2 linked regions of the Homo sapiens genome follow. The protein of the gene in region 1 interacts with the protein of each later gene in a biochemical or structural test. Each region holds a gene or a part of one and is shown on either strand. Other genes may lie near its edges.

Region 1 (3,500 bases):
ATCACAGCTACTGGGACCCTCGGTTTGGTTCAGAGACTGACACAGCAATGTTTCCCTCTTGAGGGGTCCCCAGTGCCCTCTGCTTTGCCAGAAGAAGGGTTTTCTTGTCTATCTTCAGGGGCACTCGTACCGCATACATGAATCCCCCACATACAAACCTGGCTATAGACCCCAGAGTGGAAGCTAGGGGTGGAGACAGGACCAGCTGTGGCTGCTATGGAAAAGGCTGAGGCCCAGGGGCCTCCCTGCCTGTCAGCAGCTCCGGACTAAGAGTCTGTTTTGTGGGGGCAGCTCTGGAATTCTGTCCTGAGCAGGCATTGCAGTGGTAAGGAGGCAGGGTGTGCGCGGGGTTTCCTATGCCCCCCCAAACCTGACCTCCTCTCCCTCCCAGAAGAGACGCAGGCAGCTCTGGCTGCTCCTCTTGGGGTATAGGGGAGTGGGGTGCACAGTCACCAGGGGCCACTCCTAAAGGCCCCTTGGGCCAGCAATGAGGCAGGATGGAGGAGCGAGCAGGCGCAGGGAGAAGTGTGAGCTCAACAGCCGAGGCAGCACAGTGAGAGGCCCCTTCCTCTCACTCTGACCTGAGAGTGAGCCTCCCAGAGCATGGTCTCTGTAGGGAAAGCAGTGTCTGTCCTGTGTTTCTTTAAATGCAAATTCCCTGCAGTGGCAGACCCTGTGGCCAGCAGCCCTGTCGGGGGCCTGTGAGGGAGACAGTGTGGAAGGTGGGGGGCTCTGTCCCCAAACTCTGCCACCTTCTTGAATCTGCCCAGTGTGGGCTGTAGCTGGGGGAGCTTGGGCCCCGGCCAGCCTGGCCCTGGTCATTTGCAGCCAAACCCTGGGAAGCCAGGCTCAAGTCAGTGGTCCCCGGTCCCAGGGAGCAGCACAGTGGCCCTGCTCTGCCCCAGGCCCGCCACTGCCTCAGAACTGATAAAATTCCCTCTATCCTCCCAGGCTCAAAATAGCTGCAAGTGGAGCTATATTAGGAAAGGGCCAGCACGGAGCTCCATTCCTTCTCCATTTTTGGCCAGTGCTGACAGCTGCAGGGTCATCTCTTGCCCTGACCAGCCCAGGGCCCCCTGCAGAGGGCAGTGTTGGCCTGGCGGGGTGGGGGCTGCCTCTGCCCTCCCTTGGCAGCCTGCTCCTTCTTTGACATTTATTCCTGCCTCCTGCTCAGCTTCTCCCACCCAGGACCTGGGGCCGGGATGGTGGCAGCAGACACATCTGAGAGGAGCCAGTGCCTGGGTCTTGGGGAAGATGAGCCAAAGATGTAAGACCTGCCCAGGGGCCCTTGCACTGAGTGGCCTGAGGGGCACTGCCCTTCAGTGCCAGCCTCAGAAGGGAGGAGAAGAAGGGGGCTGCTGGGATGCCTATGCCCGTCTGCCCTTGCACCACATCTGTTTCTCTCTCCTCCTTCCAAGAGGATACGAGGTGCCAAAGAATTGCACTGCAAGTTGCCCAGAGGAGAGAGTAGCGGAAGGGGCTTCTTTTTGGAGCCAGACAGGACAGAGTTCAAGTTGTGACCCTGCCTCTTCCTAGCACTGTGACTCCGGGCAAATTACCCACCCGTCCCAGCCTGTTTCCTAATTCTAATTCTTGAGATGGTAGTGCCTACCCCGCAGGTGGGTTGTGCAGACTGAACGGGTCATGAGTCTAAGGTGCTCAGCATGGGAGAAGTGTGCCATGGATAAGCACGGGGATTAGCCCTTGCTGACCCTGTTGCTGACCCACTTAGCATAGGTGGTGGCCTCAGCCCAGCAGAGGTTGCCCTAGGCCAGCCCAGGTCAGAGGCTCCAGCCCTTCCTGCCGGCATTGCCTGAGACAGCAGCATCAGCTTTTACTTTGGATGAAGCACCCACTGCACATCCTCCCCTAGCCCACCATCCCTTGGAGGAAACGTCAGACTCTGCTGCTCTGAGCACCAAGAAATAATTTACACATTCATCAGGGTCTGGGCAGCCCCTGCACCGACAGCAGAGTACCTTAGGCACTATGGGAAGCAGAGGTGGGCCTGGCCCCTCACTTCCCTGAGCAGGCAGCAAGTCCCTGTCTCAATGCAAAGTGGAGTCAGGCAGACCTGCATGCCAGTTCTGTCTGCCACTTACTAGCTGTGTGACCTTGGGCAAATTACTTGCTCTCTCTGAGCGTCTATTTTCCAGCTATAAAATGGGGAAAATCATGCCCACCTCTGGAGTTGCAGAGAGAGTTGTTTTAGAGAGTGTTGCTGAGAGATAAGGCATGTGGACTGTTAGCTGGTCCATAGCCAGAGTGCATGGTCAGTATGGGGAGACATTATCATCATTGCAGGTGGGTCTCCTGGGAGTCCCAGGCCACCAGAGGCTGACCTCTCTGCCTGAGGCCAGTTCCTGAAAAGGACCGGGAAGACCTACCAGCCCAACAAATGCGGGACAAGGAGGTCATCTCTGTTCTACTATTCCCTGAGTTTTCTGGCAAAAGTCCTTTGCTGGGGAACCCTGGGGGCATATATGGCTCTGTCACCTTGGGTAAGGGAAGCAAGCCATGTGGTGCCAGAAATCAGCTTCACTGAGGATTCTAGAAAGAGCTGGGGGGGTGGGGAAGCTGAGGGCCACAGGGAGCAGTGACCTGATGGGGCACAGGTGCCTTCTGCTGCAAGGGCAAAGGCAAGGGCATGGGCTTGGGCCAGACTGACCGGATTCCTACTGTGACTCTTCTGGGTGGCTCCAGGCAGTGATGATACCAGGTGTCATGCAGTGAGTGGGTGACAGACAAAGCTCAGAGCTTTACAAGTGTTGGGCCCTTTATCCTCCCAATAACCCTGAGACATGGACAGTGTGATTCCTCCATGATTCGGAGGAGGAACCCTGAACCACTAGGCTCTACTGCCTTGACTCAGCCTGCCCTGCCTGGAGAGGGCTATGCCAATTGCACAGGGCGGGAGTAGAAGTTAGGGTGAGAGAACAAGCGTGAAGGGCTCAGAGCTAACACAGGCCCAGTGTGGGGACTCCGTTCCTTTGCCTCCCCCCTACAGTGCCCCAGTCCCATGTCCTTTTACCTGCTGTGCTCCCAGAGTCCCGCCAGCTAGACCTTAGGGGTGAGGCTGCTGTTCTCCTGCACAGCCCCTTTCTCCTTGGGGTCCTGCTTCCTCGCCACCCCACCCTGGCCAAGGTCACTCCTGCAAACCCGCTCCCTGCACGCCACTGCCAAAGAGTCTCTCCATATACAATTCAAGGGCTCCCTCCTCCAGGCAGCTTCCCAGACTATTCCTAGTCCCAGATAACTCGCTTTTCCACCTCTCGAACGCTCCCCTGCTCCTGCCTCCGAGCTCCCAGAGGGGTGGGGACCTGTGCATAGCTCTTGAAGGCTGCAGGCTGTGCTGTCCTGTTCTGGGGAGTGGCCTAGTGAAAAAGTGTTGGAAGTCAGAATCTCCTGAATTCAGGACTGGCTCGGCCACATGGTAGCTGGACAAACGGACTGTGACTTAACCTTCTCTGAGCCTCAGTTTCCTCCTCTGCAAAATCCGA
Region 2 (3,500 bases), on another chromosome or scaffold:
CATAAGCCTTACTTTTAGACCAAGAAATGCAAGGAACCCTGCTAGACTGAAGGCAGGAAGTGGGAAACACCACAGCCTGACACAGGAGCTTCTATGTATGGATGCTTCATTGAGGAACCTGGATTCCTCTCCTTTATCTTCTTCACTGAAAGGAACTGGTTTTTGTACTAGGATTAAGCCCAACCACACAGTCCCAACACTCTGTGTTTGGATCTTCAAGACTCAATCCAATAATTTCAGTGACTCACAGTACAGGCCTCCGAAATCAACATCTAAAACCAATCATATGGAAATTCTGCGCCCCCCTCCCCCTCCTTTCTATTTCACAGAGGCCTCAAGGATCAAACTGACCAAAAGATGAGGATGCACTACAGAAGACGAAAATGGGGGCTGGAAAATTGTAAGGGATGAGGTTCCTAACCCACAATGAATGGATATTCTGAAATAAATTTTGCTCAAATTAAGGATTTCCCCTTGAGCTTCTGAAAACAATAATAAACCACACCTAAACCCCTTTAATAGTAAGGAGCTAACCATAATTCAATCAGGTTACAGGACTTGAGATGTGCATTGTGGACCCCATCAACATGTAATCTACAGAGAGTTCAGCGTACACCTGAAAGGTTGATAAGAGTTAAAACACCTCCATCTCAGCACCTCTGAAGTGGAGAAATAATAGCTCCCTGCCTCCTCCACATGGCACAGTGAGGATCAAACTGAGATACAACTTGTAAAAGCCCTCTATAAACTGTGCATCTACCTGACCACCATGACTTACGTGAGTGGCACGCTGGCGTTGCAGAGCCCTAGGATAGATTCTCCAAGGGCAGAATGTGAAAATGTGTTTTGGACAAGAAAGAGCTGGCATGTCAAAAGGCTCTGAGACAATACTATCCTGATTATAAAGAGATTCCTAGGACTTGCAGTTGGGTATGAAGAAGATAACAAGAGGGAATAGAGAGACAACATAGGGAAGCAAATCATTTTGGAGGTTCTCATGGGTCAATGCCATCACCTACCAAGATGGGGAATGAAATATAGTACTCAGTAGTCATAGTGCTTTGAGTAGTTTGTATATTTCCAGCACATTTCTGATAGAAGAATCCCACAAACCCAGGCACAACACCGATGAATGGTATGCAACAGTATGAAAGTAAGAGGAAGGGCCCGGTGCGGGAGCTCACGCCTGTAATCCTAGCACTTTGGGAGGCCGAGGTGGGTGGATCACCTGAGGTCAGGAGTTTGAGACCAGCCTGGCCAACAACGGTGAAACCGCATCTCTACTAAAAATACAAAAATTAGCCAGGCGTGGTGGCGCACACCTGTGGTCCCAGCTACTTGGGAGGCTGAGGCAGGAGAATCACTTGAACCCAGGAGGCAGAGGTTGCAGTGAGCCAAGCTCACACCACCACACTCCAGCCTGAGTGACAGAGCAAGACTCCATCTCAAAAAAAAAAAAAAAAAAAAAAAAGGATGAAGAAGTGTGGTTATTTATTGTAACATCAGAAACAGAAGTAGCAGAAGATAAGATGTCCAAGGTCACAAAGGTCTTGTATATCTGGCTATTTGAAATTTGTCCAGTCCAGCATACATTCTCAACCCTAGCCACACATTACAATAGTCTGCAGAGCTTCTTTAAAAAATAAAGACCTTCACCCACACCTCCCACTATGGGATTGTAATCTCATTGGCCTTACTGGTCAGATTTTCATTTAAGACACAACATTGGTGACAGAGTGGAAGAAGAAAATAAAGTAAAGGCAAAACTATTTCCAAATTCCAGAAGAGAGATAATGAAAGCCAGAATCAGGACAGCAGCACTGGGAAGAGATATAGAAGGACTGGAGAAGTATTTAGGAGACGGACTCCATGAGATGGATGAGACAGAGAAGTCTAGAATGACTTCTAAATTTTCACTTTGGTTGAAGGAGGAAACACAGGAGAAAATGTTTACTGGTGTTTTGTAAGGGAGGTAAGGAGAAGAAGACAGCTGATGAGCTGGGTTCAGTATGTGTTTAGTTTGAGGTACCTGCAAGACATCTAATGGAAATGCCTTAATTACATCTAAATAGGCTCATGGCAATTTGTGTCATGGGAAACTGTCTCACAGCACGCTGAACAAAAGTGGTTATATTGTCCCCTGATTTGCCAATATTACAAGTAACATGGGGTGGAGGATATTCAAAACAGATCCGTGGGTTGTTCTTCCTTGAACAAGCTTTATTCCTCCCTGATGCATCTGTCAAAGCAATCTGTGAGAACCCCAATGCCCACAAAGATGGAGGGAGAGGTGCTGGAATGCAGACGCAAAAGGCAGGGAGGAATGAGGCTGTTTTGGAACAACAGGTCACAGCTGCAGATCGAGATCATATTACCACACCTTCCCTCAAATCTATCCAACCTCATCAGCTGAATAATGCTTACCATCTGGTCTCACAATTACAGTCTTTTTTTCTAGAATGACTTTTTCCTAACTAGTTGAACTTTGCTTACATATGGAATGCAAGAACCAAAGTTAAAGAGGAAAACAGTCCTTGCCAGAGAAGACCTCTAGAGACAGTGTCCAAGATTTTTGATGAAAAACACAGAAAGCGTTTCTAGTCTGGCTGGCAAAGTTGTGTTTTTACAAAAGAACCAGACATCCCATAGATCCAAAACAAGTCAAGGTAAATCAATTCTACAACAGCACTGTGCCCAAGGTGGCCTCACTCTTCTTGTTTTTCAAATGAGGATCCCAGAAACAGTCCCATCTCAGAGACCTGCGGTGGGAATCAAGGGAGAAAATAAATGAGTGCCTAAGTTGCTTTTTCTGTTTTCCCTAAATTGTTTATTCCCTCAGGTCAGGCAGCGTGGTATCCCAGAATCTAATCAAATTTTAGTTCATCTCTGTAGTTACGTTGTGATTTCTGCTATTAAGGTACACACATACTACATAGTTAGCTAGGAAATCCTTCAATGCTATGTATCTTAACAGAGCCTATGTCAGAAAAAGTGGCCACAGATGCAAAGCTTATTCTTCCCCAGTCTTGCAGCTAAGGGTTCATTATAATGGGGGTGTATGTGGATGGCTTTTTGAGATTAACGCTTTTTCTAAAAGAATAACCCAGATTAATTAAAAAATCTTTTTTCCTGACTATTGAAACTATATAATTTACCTGAGGTATCTCCACAGTATTATTGTTCTATATTATTTCCACCCTGATACCAATTTTACTCCATCTAGTTTGGTGTTCAACACTGCCATTCCTTCCTGGTCACAGCACATGTTGCATACATTTAAAGTTTCATGATTTCATTTATTGTATGATGTGCTCTAGTATTTTCATTACTCACTCTTGAGAGCAACATTTATCTTTTAGAGAAGGATAATAACACCATACAGAGCTCTAAAGCAGAGCAGAATACTCATTATGTTCTCTTTTTAACATTCCTGGGTGACAGTTTTAGCTTCATTAGACTCTCCTGATCACCACAATGCTACTTTCCTGTGCCCAAGAGAA

What was found. Proteins that work in one complex are often made in the same cells at the same time.
Region 2: the proteins of LDB3 (region 1) and LPAR1 interact in a test that uses a peptide from one of them, tested with the Homo sapiens proteins (one large-scale study listed by IntAct).

What each region holds. Positions count from the first base shown.
Region 1 is NC_000010.11:86,682,011-86,685,510, reverse strand, and holds part of LDB3 (LIM domain-binding protein 3), read right to left. Parts: intron 1-3,500. UniProt on the Homo sapiens protein: May function as an adapter in striated muscle to couple protein kinase C-mediated signaling via its LIM domains to the cytoskeleton.
Region 2 is NC_000009.12:110,877,971-110,881,470, forward strand, and holds part of LPAR1 (lysophosphatidic acid receptor 1), read right to left. Parts: intron 1-3,500.